Regions from separate parts of the Homo sapiens genome. Here region 2 is linked to region 1. The links come from fine-mapping of genetic effects on gene expression. A gene starts in region 1. The other region holds a variant in brackets. All regions are shown on one strand. Distances are from middle to middle.

Region 1 (8,326 bases):
AAAGTCTGGGTAATCTTTTAATGAAACGATCATCATCTACCACTGTTATGGCTGAATTGTGCCCCTTACATTCTTATGATAAAGTTCTAGCCCCCCGGACCTCAGAATGGGACTTGGAGACAGGGCCTTTAAAGGCCATTAGGGGCTGGGCGCGGTAGCTCACACCTGTAATTCCAGCACTTAGGGAGGCCGAGGCAGGTGGATCATGAGGTCAGGAGATTGAGACCAGCCTGGCCAACATGGTGTGACCCTGTCTCTACTAAAAGTACAAAAAATTAGCTGGGCATCGTGGCGCATGCCTGTAATCCCAGCTACATGGGAGGCTGAGGCAGGGGAATTGCTGGGACCCAGGAGGCAGAGGTTGCAGTGAGCCGAGATGGTGCCGCTGCACTCCAGCCTGGTGACAGAGCAAGACTCCATCCCTAAATAAATAAATAAGTGCCATTAGCGTGGGCCCTAATCCAACATCCTTACAAGAAAATTGGGACACACGGTGGGACACATGGAGAGACACGAGGAATGTGTGCACAGAAGAAAAAACATGTGAGGTCTCGGGGAGAAGGTGCCATCTTCGAGCTAAGGAGAGAGGTATAAGAAGAAACCTGGCTGGGTACAGCGGCTTATGCCTGTAATCTAAGCACTTTGGGAGGCTGAGGTGGGTGGATTGATTGAACCTAGTAGTAGTTAGAGACCAGCCTGGGCAACATAGCAAGATCCCATCTCTACTAAAAATACAAAAAGTTAGCCAGGTGTGATTGTGAGCACTTGTGGTCCCAGCTACTGAGGAGGCTGAGGTGGGAGTATCACCTGAGCCTGGGAAGTCGAGGCTACAGTGAGCCACGATTGTGCCACTGCACTCCAGCCTCGGCGATGGGAGTGAGACCCCAGTCTTTTCTTTTTTTTTTTTTTTTGAGACGGAGTCTTGCTCTGTCGCCCAGGCTGGAGCGCAGTGGCGTGATCTCGGCTCACTGCAAGCTCTGCCTCCCGGGTTCACGCCATTCTCCTGCCTCAGCCTCCCGAGTAGCTGGGACTACAGGCACCCGCCACCACGCCCGGCTAATTTTTTTTTTATTTTTAATAGAGACAGGGTTTCACCATATTAGCCAGGATGGTCTCGATCTCCTGACTTCGTGATCCACCTGCCTCGGCCTCTCAAAGTGCTGGGATGACAGGCGTGAGCCACCGCGCTGGGATGACAGGCATGAGCCACCGTGCTGGGATGACAGGCGTGAGCCACCGCGCTGGGATGACAGGCGTGAGCCACCGCGCCCGGCCAAGACCCCAGCCTTAAAAGAAAAAAAAAAGAAGAAAACAAAGGAGAAACCACGTCTACTGACACCTTGATCTGGGATTCTAGCTTCCAGGACTGTTAGGAAGTAATTCCAGGCCGGGCATGGTGGCTCATGCCTATAATCCCAGCACTTTGGGAGGCTGAGGCGGGTGGATCACGAGGTCAGGAGATCGAGACCAGCCTTACCAACATGGTGAAACCCTGTCTCTACTAAAGATATAAAAATTAGCCGGGCGTGGTAGCGCACGCTTGTAATCTCAGCTACTCAGGAGGCTGAGGCAGGAGAATCGCTTGAACCCACGAGGCGGAGGTTGCAGTGAGCTGGGATCGCGCCATTGCACTCCAACCTGGGCGACAGAGGGAGATCCGACTCAAAAAAAAAAAAAAAAAAAAAGAAAAGTAATTCCAAACCACCACCCAGTCTGTGAGAGATTTTGTTATGTTATATTTTCTTATAACTGAGATAATTATTACAGTTAAAGAGATCGGACTTAACTGAACCCATCTTGCTTCTAACCTCCAAGCTGTCCTTGTTCATTCCTGGGTGTAGGCTGAAATAACTTCGGGAGGCGCTTAGTTTATAGTTTAGCTTTGAAACAAAGATGGTAACAGCCCTTTGCAAAACAAACTCCCTTCCTACCTGGGGACAAGACTGCCTTTTCAGGACTAACAAATTAGCCATAAGATTAGAAATTATGGTTTAGGAGTCATGTAGCTGGAGGCTACAAGATTCTAAACCTCCCAAATTGCTTCTCAGGATAACATCACTATTAAAAAACAGATCAGCGCTTGAGATATTTTGCAGACTCTGCACTCCATGGATCAGCTGGCACCACCCAGATTGATAAACTGGCTCATATCTTGTGGCCCCCACCCAGGAACCGACTCAGCACAAGAGGACAGTTTTGACTCCCTATCATTTCACCTCTGACCCAACCAATCAACACTCCCTACTTTCTGACCCCATACCCACCAAATTATCCTTAAAACCGCGGATCCCCAGCCGGGCACGGTGGCTCACGTCTATAGTCCCAGCACTTTGGGGAGGCCCAGGTGGGCGGATCACCTGAGGTCAGGAGTTCAAGACCAGCCTGACCAACATGGAGAAACTCCGTCTCTACGAAAAATACAAAATTAGCCAGGCATGGTAGTGTGCGCCTGTAGTCCCAGCTACCCGGGAGGCTGAGGCAGGAGAATCACTGGAACCCAGGAGGTGAAGGTTGCAGTGAGCCGAGATCGCGCCACTGCACTCCAGTGTGGGTGACAGAGTGAGATTCGGACTCAAAAACAAAAAAAAACAAAAAACAAAAAACTCTGATCCCTGAATTCTCAAGGACACTAATTTTTTTTGAGTAGTAATAAAACCTCAGTAACCTGTACAAGCTGGCTCTGTGTGAATTAAACTCTTTATTGCAATTCCCCTGTCTTGATAAAGTCTAGGCAGTGGGCAGGGACAATATGTTGGGTAGTTACAGTGGCACCCTGAGCAAACTAATACAATTACTAACATAATTTAATCAATTAATGTAATTTAACATAGTTTAAAAAAACTGTCACAGTAATTGTGATGTTGTGAAATATGTATACATTTAGTCTTCCGGTTTCCTGGTATCCAACTCCAAAAATCCTTAGAATCTGTGAAGTGACGTCTTTTTTTTTTTTTTTTGAGATGAAGTCTCACTCTGTCGCCCAGACTGGAGTGCAGTGGCACCAACTCAGTTCATTCTAACCTCCGCCTCTTCGCTTCAAGAGATTCTCCGGCCTCAGACTCCCGAGTAGCTGGGATTACAGGTGCCCGCCACCACGCCCAGTTAATTTTTGTATTTTTAGTAGAGACGGGGTTTCACCACGTTGGTCAGGCTGGTCTTGAACTCCTGACCTCAGGTGATCCACCTGCCTCGGCCTCCCAAAGTGCTGGGATTACAGGCGTGAGCCACCGCGTATGGCCTAATTTTGTATTTTGAGTAGAGACGGGGTTTCACCATTTTGGCCAGGCTGGTCTCGAACTTTTGACCTCAGGTGATCCGTCCACCTTGGCTTCCCAAAATGCTGGGATTACAGGTATGAGCCACCGCGCCCGGCCTGAAATGCAGTTTAAACTCGTTTGTTTTTCTTATGTTAAATTTAAAAAATACTTAAAAAAAAAAACATGAAGGTGTGATCCTGCCTTCCTGAAATTGTTTCTCTACTTACCTGTGCATGGAGAGAAGTTTGGAATGCTGTTTCCCCAATTATAATACGCTATAATACGCAGCAGTAGTTATTTTTGGGTGAGACTTCGGATGCTCGTCTTTGCTTCCTTTTTGGACTTTCCTGTGCCGCTTGGGTTTCCGAGGACGAGCAGAAGTAATCTCAGACGCAACTTTCCAAAATCCCCTCCTCCAGTTGCAGGGATGGCGGGGGCGGGTCAGCGGCGCCGCCCTGCGCATGCGTCGAGCCGTTGGTGGGGCCGGAACCTGGTTTCCCGGCCTCGCGCCCGAGGGGAGCGTATTGAGCGAGGCACCGGGACGTCGGCGGCTGGCGGAGCCGGGCGGGCGAAGCTGGAGCGGCGGTGGCGGCGGCGTAGGGAGGCCGGGGCCGGGGCTGAGGCCGCGGCCGGGTCTGCGAGGCCCTTGGGGCGGCAGGCGGCGGCGGCCCGGGGCTCGAGCCCGGAGGCAGGAGCAGCCGCCATGGCCGAGAGCATCGTGAGTGCGGCGGCCGGGCGGGAGCGGGGACGCCGGGATGAGGCAGCAGATTTGCCGGCCTCGGCCTGTGGGGGAGGCGGGCCTGCCGGCGCCGCGACTCGGCCCCTTTCTCTTCTCTCGCCAGGGCTTTCTCTGTAGTGGCTGGGCCCCTCTCGGGGACTTTCACCCCCCTCGGCTGCTTCCCGTCCGTGTCCCTCCCCAGGGGACTTACGACCCCGGTTCCCCGCCCTGGGCAGGGAAAGGCCGAGCCTTTCTAAGCAGGGAGAATGGACTGTGGCGAAGAGAAACCGCCCTCCTTCCCCACCCGTTTCCCGGCTCCAGGAGACTTCCTGGTCTAATTCCAGGGACTCCCAGCCAGTCCTGCCCCTCTCAGAGCCAGGGACACCTCTTATCCTAATCTCCCTCTGATTCTCTCCTCCTGCTCTCCCGCTTCCCAGCAAGTGCCTTGTCATGAGTCACTAAGGAGAGCAGCTCTGCAGACGGGGACGTTACAGAGCTCCCTCCCCACCAGAAGACCTGGGAAAATGAAAACACAGTAACTTGCCGGCTTTGCTCCTTACTTGGAAGGACAACTTGACAATTCCTCTTTAAAAGGAATGTTGTAAATGATGTTGATTTCACTTTTTACCTGAAATTGAAATTGTCGGCCCGGCGCAGTGGCTCACGCCTGTGATGTCAGCACTTTGGGAGGCCGAGGCGGGTGGATCACCTGGGGTCAGGAGTTCGAGACCATCCTGGCCAACATGGCAAAATCTTGTCTCTACTAAAAATACAAAAAATTAGCCGGGCGTCATGGCGCACTGTAATCCCAGATACTTGGGAGGCTGAGGCAGGAGAATTGCTTGAACGCGGGAGGTGGAGGTTACAGTGAGCTGAGATCCCTCCATGGCACTCCAGCCTGGGCTATAGAGCGAGACTGCGTCTCAAAAAAAAAAAAAAAATTGTCACACACTCCTCCTTAACGTAAAAAATATCAGTGACAAATCAGAAAACCAGTCCCTCGTTAAGTTGTGAGAAGTTTCTTCCCAAAAGTAAATGTGATGGGAAAAAAACTAACTGACCATTGGACAGGAGCATTTTGGTTAATATTAAGGAAGATTTGGGATTTCTGGGGGAAGCTTAGCAGTATTGGGTGAAGAGTAATGTTCATACTGTAGCATTGTGACAGTCTCTGCAGTTTTGCCAGGTGTTGTCTAGAATAGGTCTCCAGGCCCGGCGCGGTGACTCACACCTGTAATCCCAGCACTTTGGGAAGCCCAGGTGGGTGGATCACCTGAGGTCAGGAGTTCAAGACCAGCCTGGACAACATAGTGAGCCTAGGTGGCGTCACTGGACTCCACCCTGGGCGACAGAATGAGACTGTCTCACACACACAAACAAATGGGTCTCCAGGAGAACCTAGCACTTATTTGCAAGGCTGTTCTCTGGTGGTTCCATCATCTCTCCAGTCAGGGGCCCTCTTGGTGCCTCCATGTTTCCCAACCTGGAGATGAGTGGAATGAATATATGGCCCAGGAGAAACTTAGGAAACGTCGACTCCTTTTTTTTTTTTTTTTTTAACCTTATTTTATTTTTTTGAGATGGAGTCTCACTCTGTCGCCCAGGCTGGAGTTCAGTGGTGCGATCTCTGCTTACTGCAACCTCCGCCTCTCGGGTTCAAGAAATTCTCCTGCCTCAGCCGAGTAGCTGGGGTTGCAGGTGCTCGCCAACACGCATGGCTGATGTCTTTTTTATTTTTAGTGGTGATGGGGTTTCACCGTGTTGGCCAGGTTGATCTCGAACTTCTGACCTCGTGATCCGCCCGCCTTGGCATACCAAAATGCTGGGATTACAGGCATAAGCCACCGCGCCTGGCCTTTAAATCTTTTTAATTAAAAACATTTTTTTATAGAGATGAGGTCTCTACTATGTTGTACAGGCTGGTCTCTGAGCTCGAGGGATCCTCCTACCTTGGGGTCCCAAAATTGCTAGGATTACAGTCCTGAGCTACCATGCCCGGCCAAGAAACCTTTGACTCCTTTGAAAAATAAAATGTGGCCATGCAGTGGCTCACGCCTGTAATCCCAGCACTTTGGGAGGCCGAGGTGGGCGGATCACGAGGTCAGGAGTTCAAGACTGGCCTGACCAACATGGTGAAACCCTGTCTCTACTAAAAATAAAAAATTAGCCGGGTGTGGTGGCATGCACCTGTTATCCCAGCTACTCTGGAGGTTGAGGGAGGGGAATCGCTCAAACCCGGGAGGTGGAGGTTGCAGTGAGCCCAGATTGCGCCACTGCACTCCAGCCTGGGCGACAGAGCAAGACTGTCTCAAAAAAAAAAAAAAAAGTGTTAATCATTGGTGACTTTGCCTAGAAATAGGTTAGGAATTAGCACTGAAACCTTCTTTCAAACTACCTTTGTACTTTTAACTGAGTTAAAATAACCATTGACAAGTGAAAAGTGTTTCAGACAAGGCCATTTTTTTTTTCCCACTAGTGTATAAGGCTAGGCTCTCATTGACAGCATTGGATCTCGTTGAATGTCTCAGATTGTGAGGAATTAAAACACTCTTCTTTTGAAATTGATTTAAAAAGTTATTTTGAATTTAAGAAAGAGATCTTTTGAAAAGTTTCTGGGCTGGGCATGGTGGCTCACACCTGTAATCCCAGCACTTTGAGAGGCCGAGGCAGGTGAATAATGAGGTCAGGAGTTGAGACCAGCCTGGCCGACATGGTGAAACCACGTCTTTACTAAAAATACAAAAATTAGGGCGTGGTGGCTCACGTTTGTAATCCTAGCACTTTGGAAGGCCGAGGCAGGTGGATTGCCTGAGCTCAGGAGTTTGAGACCAGCCTGGGCAACACGGTGAAACCCCACGTCTACTAAAAAAAAAAAATACAAAAAATTAACCGGGCGTGGTGGCGTGCACCTGTAGTCCCAGCCACTCAGGAGGCTGAGGCAGAAAAGTTAGAACCCGGGAGGCGGAGATTGCAGTGAGCCGAGATCGCACCACTGCACTCCAGCCTGGGTGACAGAGTGAGACTCTTAAAAAAAAAAAAAAAATTAGCTGGGCGCGGTGGCGGGCGCCTATAATCCCAGCTACTTGGGAGGCTTGAGGCAAGAGAATTGCTTGAACTCGGCAGGCAAAGGTTGCAGTGAACCGAGGTCGCGCCATCGCACTCCCACTCTGGGTGACAGAGCAAGACTCTGTCTTGGGGGGAGAAAAGAGTTTCTGTGGATTTAACTGTATCTCACCAGTTCTTCAACTTCCCCAAGAAGCGTTCTAGTCTTATTTTCTTATAAATAGGGAAACTTAAGTTACCAAGAGGCTGTGTGTTCATGTTGTCAGGTCTGTCTCTTCCTGTGTATTTCATTTTGTAGTCTGTGTCAGAGGCTAGGCCAGAACTTTCCATCGTACAAATTATGTTTGTCTCTTGTTAAATACTGGAGTTGGCCTTGGAAACCTGGACTCCCATCTTCTGTGGTAGAGGATCAAGTAGGATGACTTCTTCACCTTAGAATTCTGCAGCCTGAACCATTTAGCTCTGTAAAGAATGGCGGTAACATGCTCTTGTTCCAGAGTCATCGTTTGAAGGAACATTCACATGTTCCCCTTCATTAGAACAGAGCTTTCCTTTTTAAGATAGCTAAGTGTTGGCAGACAGATTTTAGAAACAAATAAGTGGAAGTATTTACCTAATGCTATATATTGTGAAAACGTTTTTCTGGGGTATTGAATCTAGAATGAAGTATACTAGACGTTAGAAGTATAAAGAATTGTATTTCTTTTCTTTTTTTTTTTTTTTTTGAGACGGAGTCTTGCTCTGTCACCCAGGCTGGAGTGCAGTGGCGCGATCTGCTCACCACAAGCTCTGCCTCCTGGGTTCACGCCATTCTCCTACCTCAGCCTCCCAAGTAGCTGGGACTACAGGCGCCCTCCACCACGCCTGGCTAATGTTTTGTATTTTTAGTAGAGATGGGGTTTCACCGTGTTAGCCAGGATGGTCTCAATCTCCTGACTTAAAAGTTGAGAACATATTGGGTGGAGCCTTTTCTGCCAAGTGAAAGTTATGGGAAAATGCAGGACAGGGTTATCCTATTTTAGGAAAATCTAGATTAGGCTTAGTTACTTTACTAAAAGCGGACAAATCCCAGTAGACTGAGCCTTTATGGTGTTTTGTCCTGTATCAGTGGAAATCTTTTTTAGACAATGGCTTGTGACAGTTTTCATCTGCATAATGGTTGAAGAGGATGTTTAATGTAACACTCGTGGTAACCTCACAGAAAATAGTTATAGAATTTATGAAAAAGGAAATAAGGGAGGCCGGGTGTGGTGGTGCACACCTGTAATCCCAGCACTTTGGGAGGCCC
Region 2 (8,326 bases), 74 kb after region 1:
TATGGGCAGAGTGTAGGCAGCAGCTTTTCACAAGAAGCTTGTTGATAGAAAGATTAATTTTTTCACCTTTAGCATTTCCATTGAGTGTCTGCACCTCTGTGAGGAAGTACGGTTTCATCTGTTACAATCGAATGGGAAGCAGAGGTGATTTAGCTCTGCCTCCAGCATTAGAGTTAGACAGTTTAAAAAATTCCTGTTCTAACAGTTTCAGAGTCACAGCCTCTGCTTTTTACTCATATCTCCCCTCCTCCTAAATCAACTCTGGTTTTATTGCCTTGGCCCAGAAGGCTTGGCCAGCTTCCAGACCCCAAGCTCACAGCTGCACAGTTGGCATTTTTAAGAGACACCGTTGGGGGAGAAGAGGGCGAGTGCTTTGCAGAAGTGGCTGCTCTGGGTAGTGGGGGCCAGTGGGCAGCAGCCCCCAGGAGGTTCTTGCCGTGTGTAGGGGTCCGACTTTGGCTTTTTCTTCACTGTTCAAGCCAACAGGAAATGCCAAAGAGAAAGGAGCAAATTCTTTCTGAGCTGCTCCGCCACTGACTCAGAACTTTTCCCTGAAGGAGACAGAATAGAGAGGCTCCTCCTCCCCCGGCCTTTCTCTGTCAGGAAGCCTATAGCTGTTCTTGTATCCTGCTAGTTTATTTTGTGTCTGTATTTTGTCTCAAAACCACTCACTCGGGTATTTGACATCAGGCACCCTGTGCCTCTTCCCTGCCTGTGCCTTCCCTAGTCAGCCCAGGGAACTGCACCTCCTGCTCCGAGGTTCAGCTGCTGCCCATCTGTCTGGACAGGTGGTGAAAGGTGAGGCTCCCTCTACACCAGAGCCACCTTGCTAGTATACTGCACTATTTTTGCAGTCATCTGTTGGAAGACATTCTCTGGAGGTACTGAGAGCTCCTGAAGGCTTTATCCGTTTCTCATATATGAATTATTTTTTTTTAAGACGGAGTCTCGCTCTGTTGCCCAGACCGGAGTGCATTGGCGCAATCTTGGCTTACTGCAACCTCCGCCTTCTGGGTTCAAGCGATTCTCCCGCCTCAGCCTCCCGAGTAGCTGGGATTACAGGTGCCCGCAACCACGCCTGTCTAATTGTTGTATTTTTAGTAGAGACGGGGTTTCGCCACGTTTGCCAGGCTGGTCTCAAACTCCTGACCTCGTGATCTGTCTGCCTCTGCCTCTGAAAGTGTTGGGATTACAGGCGTGAGCCACTGCGCCCATCCTTAATGCATTAATCCCCTGCAGTTTGACTCGGAAGGCTAGGATAGAGAGTGCATTTTTCCAGACACGAGAGGAGAAAGAGGCAGAGGGATGAAATGTGAGGGAGGAGGACACGTCTCACAGTCAAGACTTCCGCCCTCCATCCCAGCCTCCAGGACGAGAGGCATGAGCTCCTATCCTCCGGGCTGTTGAGCACCGTCAGCACAAGGCAGAGGCACAGATGCCCGCTTGGGCCTATTTGGGAAGAATTTAAATTCTAGTTCAATTTAGCACTTGCGTTTATAGATGTAAGTTGTGGCAGTTTGCATTTTATAGTGATAGCCTGTAAGATTTTTAAAATGTCCTCAGAAATACGTCTTGATGTTGGGGAGAAAGAAACCTGTTCTAGCAGGAAGCTGCTCACCTTAGGCACAGCGAAGAGGAACCTTCCTTTTGGCTTCTTGTAGGACAGCATCAGCTTGCTGCTGGAGGCCGTGCGGACCAGAAATGAGGAGCTCGCCCAGACATGGAAGAGGTCTGAGCAGTGGGCCACCATCGAGCAGCTGTGCAGTGAGTACCCCCACCCCCTGCCCCGGCACCCCGTGGCTGGGGCCGGAGAGCAGCCCACTCTGCACAGCTCCCCACTGCCGGTGGTGCCCTGGATTCCGCACCCAGCTGCATCCTGGCAGGTGCCATCGGCAATGCAACGAGTAGAGACTCGGCCTCCCTGCCAGGCACGTGGCAGGCTCCGGTGATGGAGCAGACATGTTGTCCAGGCCGTACGTCTTAGGTACACAGCCCTGTAAATTTTATAAACCTGTACATCAGAGATACTAATCTCCAGGCATCCTAGGAGCACTTTGAACATCATTGTCTTAAGAGAATCAGAAACTTTATGGAAGCGCCGGAAGCGTGGGACCTTTTGGTCTCCTTGAGAATTTCCCTTTAGTGCTTAAAGCTGTAAGGAGGAGAAGCCTGCAGCATCCATGTTGTTGCTGGTGGACACTACGGAACGGACCGCAGGCATTGCGTGTCTTCCGGACCCTCAGTCACCAGGTCCTGAACGATTCCCCACTCGTGAGAACCTTCTGTCAGCATTGCTGCAGGGACTCCTCACGCACCGTGGTGCCTCGTGCAGCCCGAGTGCCCTGAGTCCCTGCAGCTGAGAGCACCAGAGTGCCCGGGAGCTACGGCCCTGGACAAATGCTAGAATCCTTCTGTTAACACAGCCTTCAAAAGACACATCAAACACCTTTATACCATTTCCTGTTTTTTTTTTTTTTTTTGAGACGGAGTTTGGCTCTTGTCACCCAGGCTGGAGTGTGGTGGCGTGATCTTGCCTCACTGCAACCTCCACCTCCTGGGTTCAAACGATTCTCCTGCCTCAGCCTCCTGAGTAGCTGGGACTACAGGCATGTGCCACCATGCCTGGATAATTTTTGTATTCTTAGTAGAGCCAGGGTTTCACCATGTTAGCCAGGCTGGTCTCGAACTCCTGACCTTGTGATCTGCTTGCCTCTGCCTCCCAGAGTGTTGGGATTACAGGTGTGAGCCACCACGCCCAGCCGAGGTTTTCTTTTCACACAATTCTTTGTTTATTATTTTTATTTTTGTAGAGACAGGGTCTCACTCTATTGCCGAGGCTGGAGTGCAGTTGCACAATCGTAACTCACTGCAGCCTCAAACTCCAGGCTCAAGTGATCTTTCTGCTTCAGCCTGCTGAGTAACTGGGACCACAGGCTTGCAACACCACACCCAGCTAATTCTTGGGGCTTTGTTGTTGCTTTTTATTTGTTTGTTTTTTAAAAATAATTTTAACTTATTTTAGATTCACAGGGTACATGTGCAGGTTTGTCACCTGGGTATATTGCCTGATGCTGAGGTTGGGGTATGATTGATCACATCACCCAGGTACTACACATAGTACCTAATAGTTTTTCAGCCCGCCCTGCTCTTTGTGTGTGTGTGTGTGTGTGTGTGTGTGTGTGTGTTTTGAGCTGGAGCCTCACCCTGTCTCCCAGGCTGGAGTGCAGTGGCGCAATCTTAGCTCACTGCAAACTCTGCCTCCTGGGTTGAAGCAATTCCCCTCCCTCAGCCTCCCGAGTAGCTGGGATTACAGATGTGTACCACCACACCTGGCGTTGCCATCTTTATGTACGTGAGTACCCATGTTTAGCTCCCACTTATAAATGAAAACATGTAGTATTTGGTTTGCTGTTCCTGCATTAGTTTGCTTAGAATAATGGCCTTCAACTGCATCCATGTTGCTGCAAAGGACATGATTTCATTCCTTTTTATGGCTGCAAAATTTTTTAATATTTTTGTATCAATGAGGTCTCACTGTGTTGCCCAGACTGGTCTCAAACTTTGGCCTCAAGCATTCCTTGCACCTCAGCCTCACAAAGTCCTGAGATTATACCTGGGAGCCACTGCACCCAGCCCTTTGATGCAGTTCTAACAATGACACCAGTCTTTTTTTTTTTTTTCTTTTTTGTTTCCCTTTTAGAGACAGGGTTTCACTCTGTTGCCTAGGCTGGAGTGCAGTGGAGTGATCATAGCTCACTACAGCCTTCAATTCCTGAGCTCAAGCGATCCTCCTGCATCAGCTTTCGGAGTACCTAGGAGTATAAACATGAGCCACTACACCCAACTAATGTTTTTGGTTGGTGTTTTTTTTTTTTCTTTAAGAGATAGGGTTGGCCGGGCCCGGTGGCTGGCTCACACCTGTAATCCCAGCACTTTGGGAGGCTGAGGCAGGTGGATCACAACGTCAAGGGATTGAGACCATCCTGGCCAACATGGTGAAACCCCATTTCTGTTAAAACTACAAAAATTAGCTGGGCATGGTGGCGAGCGCCTGTAATCCCAGCTACTCAGGAGGCTGAGGCAGGAGAATCACTTGACCCAGGAAGCGTAGGTTGTAGTGAGCTGAGATCGTGCCACTGTACTCCAGCCTGGGCGACAGAGCAAGACTCTGTCTCAAAAAAAAAAAAAAGATGTGGTCTTGCCATGTTGCCCAGGCTGGTCTCAAACTCCTAGGCTCAAGTGATCTTCCTGCCTTGGTTCCCAAAGTGCTGAGATTACAGCTGTGAGCCACTGCACCTGACCTTTTTTTTTTCCCCCCTCCTTTTTTTTTTGAGACAGGTTCTCACTCTGTCACCCAGGCTGAAGTGCAGTGGCATTTGAGGTCAGTCTCACCTTGACCTCCCCAGGCTCAAACAATCCTCCCGCCTCAGCCTCCTGAGCAGCTGGGACTACAAGCATGTGCCACCATCCCTGGCTGATTTTTTAAATTTGTTGTAGAGATGAGGTCTCACTATGTTGCCCAGGCTGGTCTTGAACTCTTGGGCCCAAGCGATCCTCCCGCCTCAGTGCTGAGATTGCAGTGGTAAGCCACCATGTCCAGCCAACTCTTTAATAATAGGCAGTTCTGACTGGTGTAAGTTCTGACTGGTATCTCACTGTGGTTTTAATTTGCATCTCTGATGATTAGTGATGTTGGGCATTTTTTCATGGGTTTTTTGTTTGTTTGTTTTGAGACAAAGTCTTGTTCTGTTGCCCAGGCTGGAGTGCAGTAGTGTGATCTCAGCTCACTGCAGCCTCCACCTCCCGGGTTCAAGCCATTGTCCAGCCTCTGCCTCCTAAGTAGCTGGAATTACAGGTGGCTGCCACCACACCCAGCTAATTTTTTTAGTTTTAGTAGAGACAGGGTTTCTCCATGTTGGCCAGGCTGGTCTCAAACTCCTGACCTCAAGTGATCCACCCACCTCGGCTTCCCAAAGTGC[T/C]GGGATTATAGGTGTGAGCCACCGCGCCCGGCCCTCATGGGTTGTTTTGTTTTGTTTTGAGACGGAATCTCACCCTGTCACCCAGGCTGCAGTGCAATCTCATGATCTCCACTTACTGCAACCTCCACGTCCTGGGTTCAAGTGATACTCCTGCCTCAGCCTCCCGAGTAGCTGGGACTACAGGCGTGCACCCACGCCTGGCTAATTTTTATATTTTTAGTAGAGATGGGGTTTCACCATGTTGGTCAGGCTGGTCTGGAACTCCTGACCTCAGGTGATCCACCTGCCTCGGTCTCCCAAAGTGCTGGGATTACAGACGTGTATACACAAGACACAAAGATCAGCTCAGGATGGGTCATAGGCCTAATGGTAAAAGGTAAAACTATGAAGCAGGCTGGGCATGATGTCTCATAGCTATAATCCTAACACTCTAGGAGGCCAAAGCTGGAGGACACTGTAGCCCAGAAGTGTGAGACCAGCCCACACAGCATAGTGAAGCCCCGTCTGTACAAAAAAACAATATTAAAAAAAAAAGAATTAGCTGGGCATGGTGAGTGGTCCACGCCTATAATCCCAGCTTCTGGGGAGGCTGAAATGGGAGGATCCCATGAGTCAGGAGGTCGAGGTCACAGTGAGCCATGATTATACCACTCCAGCCTGAATGACAGAGCAATACCCTGTCTTAAAAAAATAAAAACTGTAAAACAGTTATTAAGTTGAATCTCTTCAGGGCCTTGGGGTACGCAAAGATTCTTTTAGGCAGGATGCAGGACCTTGGGGTAGAACACAGAAAAACACTGGCATAAAAATAGGTAAATTGATAAATAAATTTATCTAAACAAAACACTTGTGCTCATCACAGGGCACTGTTAGAAACATGAAAAGGCACCAATGGGGGACGCAGTATTAGCAGTACATACACACAACATGACTTCTATCTGAAACTTAAAAATAACTCTGCCTGTTGTTAATCAAACAGAAAGCAGAAGAAGAAGCTGGGCGGAGGGTGAAACGTTTCACAAAAGGAAATGCAGGTCGGGCATGGTAGCTCACGCCTGTAATCCCAGCACTTTGGGAGGCCGAGGCGGTGGATCATTTGAGGTCAGGAGTTCGAGACAGCCAGGCCAACATGGTGAAAACCCATCTCTACTAAAAATAAAAAAAATTAGCCAGGTGTGGTGGCACGTGCCTGTAATCCTAGCTACTTGGGAGGCTGAGGTAGGAGAATCGCTTGAACCCAGGAGGCAGAGGTTGCAGCGAGCCGAGATTGCGCCATTGCACTCCAGCCTCGGCAACAACAAAAAAAAGGAGATGCAGGAACAGTCACTATCATTAGTCATCAGGGAAATGCAAATTAAAACATGAGAAGCCGTTACACATTCATCAGTGTGGCTGAAATGAAAAAAACGCGACAATGTCAAGTGTGAGTGAAGATGTGAAGCAGCTGGGACTCTCGTACCTTGCGAGTGGGAGGCAAAACCGTGCCACCCTCGCGAGAACTGTGTCTCAGGGTCTTAGAAAGTTCAGCACACAATTCATTACCCTGTGGGCCGGCAGATTCATTCCTAGGTAGGTTTTTTGTTGTTGTTGTTTGTTTGTTTGTTTGTTTTGAGATCTCGGCTTACTGCAACCTCGGTTCACTGCAACCTCCGCCTCCCAGGTTCACGCCATTCTCCTTCCTCAGCCTTCCTAGTAGCTGGGATTACAGGTGCGCACCACCACCCCCAGGTAATTTTTGCATTTTTAGTAGAGACGGGGTTTCACCATGTTAGCCAGGATGGTCTCCATCTCTTGAATTTGTGATCTGCCCACCTCAGCCTCCCAAAGTGCTGGGATTACAGGCATGAGCCACCGCGCCCGGCCTGTTGTTTGTTTTTGAGATGGAGTCTCGCTGTGTCGCCCAGGCTGGAGTGAAGAGGCAGGGTCTCGGCTCACTGCAGGCTTCCCCTCCCGGGTTCATGGGATTCTCCTTCCTCAGCCTCCTGAGTAGCCGGAACGGCAGGTGTCTACCACCACGCCTGGCTAATTATTTTTAGTAGAGACCGGGTTTCGCCATGTTGGCCAGGCTGGTCTCAAACTCCTGACTTCAAGTGATCCACCCGCCTCGGCCTCCCAAAGTGCTGGGATTACAGGCGTGACCCACTGCACCCAGCCTCACTCTTTGTTTTTATCCAAGAGAAATAAAAACACAGGTCCACAAAGAAATTGTAGAAGAATGATCCTGGCAACTTTGTTCATATTAGCTCAAAACTGGAGGCTGGGCATGGTGGCTCATACCTATAATCCCAGCACTTTGGGAGGCCAAGGTGGGTGGATCACCTGAGGTCAGGAGTTCGAGACCAGCCTGGCCAACATGGTGAAACCCTAGTTCTACCAAAAAATAGATAAAATTAGCCAGGCATTGTGGTTCATGCCTGTAATCCCAGCTACTTGGGAGGCTGAGGCAGGAAAACCGCTTGAACCCGGGAGGTGGAGGTTGCAGTGAGCCGAGATCGTGCCACTGCACTCCAGCCTGGGTGACAGAGCAAGACCCTACCTCAGAAAAAAAAAAAAAAAAAAAAAGCTGGAAACAACCCAAATGCACATCCCCCGGGGAGTTACGTTATTCACAAGGAGAAGCACCCTCTGCAACAAAAAGGAACCAGCAAGCACAGGCTCCCTGTTACTCCCTGTGGTGCAGGAGGCATTTTTCTGAGGGCATTAAGCACTTCAAAGTGTGCCTGTGGTGGGAGTGCTGTGTGGGCAGGACCAGCACTGGGTGGGATGTTGGGGGCGGGGAGCTCTCAGCTGCCTGCCCCTGCCCCCATGCCCACACTCTGGCAGTCTCTGGTGGGCCAGAAATGATGAGTGCTCATTTCTCTTCCACCCTGCAGGCACAGTTGGCGGGCAGCTCCCAGGTCTCCATGAGTACGGCGCCGTCGGGGGCTCCACACACACGGCCACTGCAGCCATGTGGGCCTGTCAGCACTGCACGTTCATGAACCAGCCAGGCACAGGCCACTGCGAGATGTGCAGCCTCCCCAGGACCTAGGGCGCCTGCCCTCTGCTGGCTAGGACCGGGCCCAGCCCAGCCCTTCCTGAAGCCAGAAGCGTTGCTGAGTGTGTTCCCTGTAACTGCCCCATAGTGGGCAGCCCTGGAGGAACAAGGGGCTGGCTGTCCTGGGCTCCCTGACCCACTGAAGCTTCTCAGCACGTTCCTCCCTGGAGAGCGGGCGCCACGGCTGGTATTCTGCAGGCTGAATGCAGTCTCCAGACTGGAAACGCAGAGCGGCTCCTCACGCCTAATCCTGTTGACAAGTCCCCCGCCGTGTTGGAAAGACCTCTCGCCTCTACGTGGCACCTGGAAT

Direction of the effects. Positions count from the first base shown, and alleles are read on the strand shown. Sizes are in standard deviations (SD) of each study's normalised expression.
For the expression in monocytes after LPS of the gene that starts at base 3,779 in region 1, T is the high allele of the variant in region 2 and C is the other (moderate effect, 0.64 SD a copy in Quach 2016).

What was found. PIP is the estimated chance that this variant, and not a neighbour inherited with it, causes the effect.
Region 2: its variant is the best candidate, but not a certain one, in a credible set for the expression of NPLOC4 in monocytes after LPS (Quach 2016, PIP 0.55).

What each region holds. Positions count from the first base shown.
Region 1 is chr17:81,632,565-81,640,890 of GRCh38, reverse strand. NPLOC4 (NPL4 homolog, ubiquitin recognition factor) reads left to right here and starts at 3,779. Exons shown (of 17, transcript NM_017921.4): 1 at 3,779-3,975. The coding sequence starts at 3,961. It overlaps TSPAN10 (tetraspanin 10), which reads right to left and starts at 3,695. Exons shown (of 4, transcript NM_001290212.2): 1 at 3,485-3,695. RefSeq lists a silencer at 3,840-4,049.
Region 2 is chr17:81,558,943-81,567,268 of GRCh38, reverse strand. NPLOC4 (NPL4 homolog, ubiquitin recognition factor) reads left to right here. Exons shown (of 17, transcript NM_017921.4): 16 at 1,662-1,764; 17 at 7,853-8,326. The coding sequence ends at 8,010. Among named protein-coding and RNA genes, the nearest start is that of FAAP100, 11 kb to the right of the region's middle. RefSeq lists enhancers at 6,181-6,280, 7,557-8,056, 8,057-8,326. The variant T/C (reference allele first, on the strand shown) is at 4,980.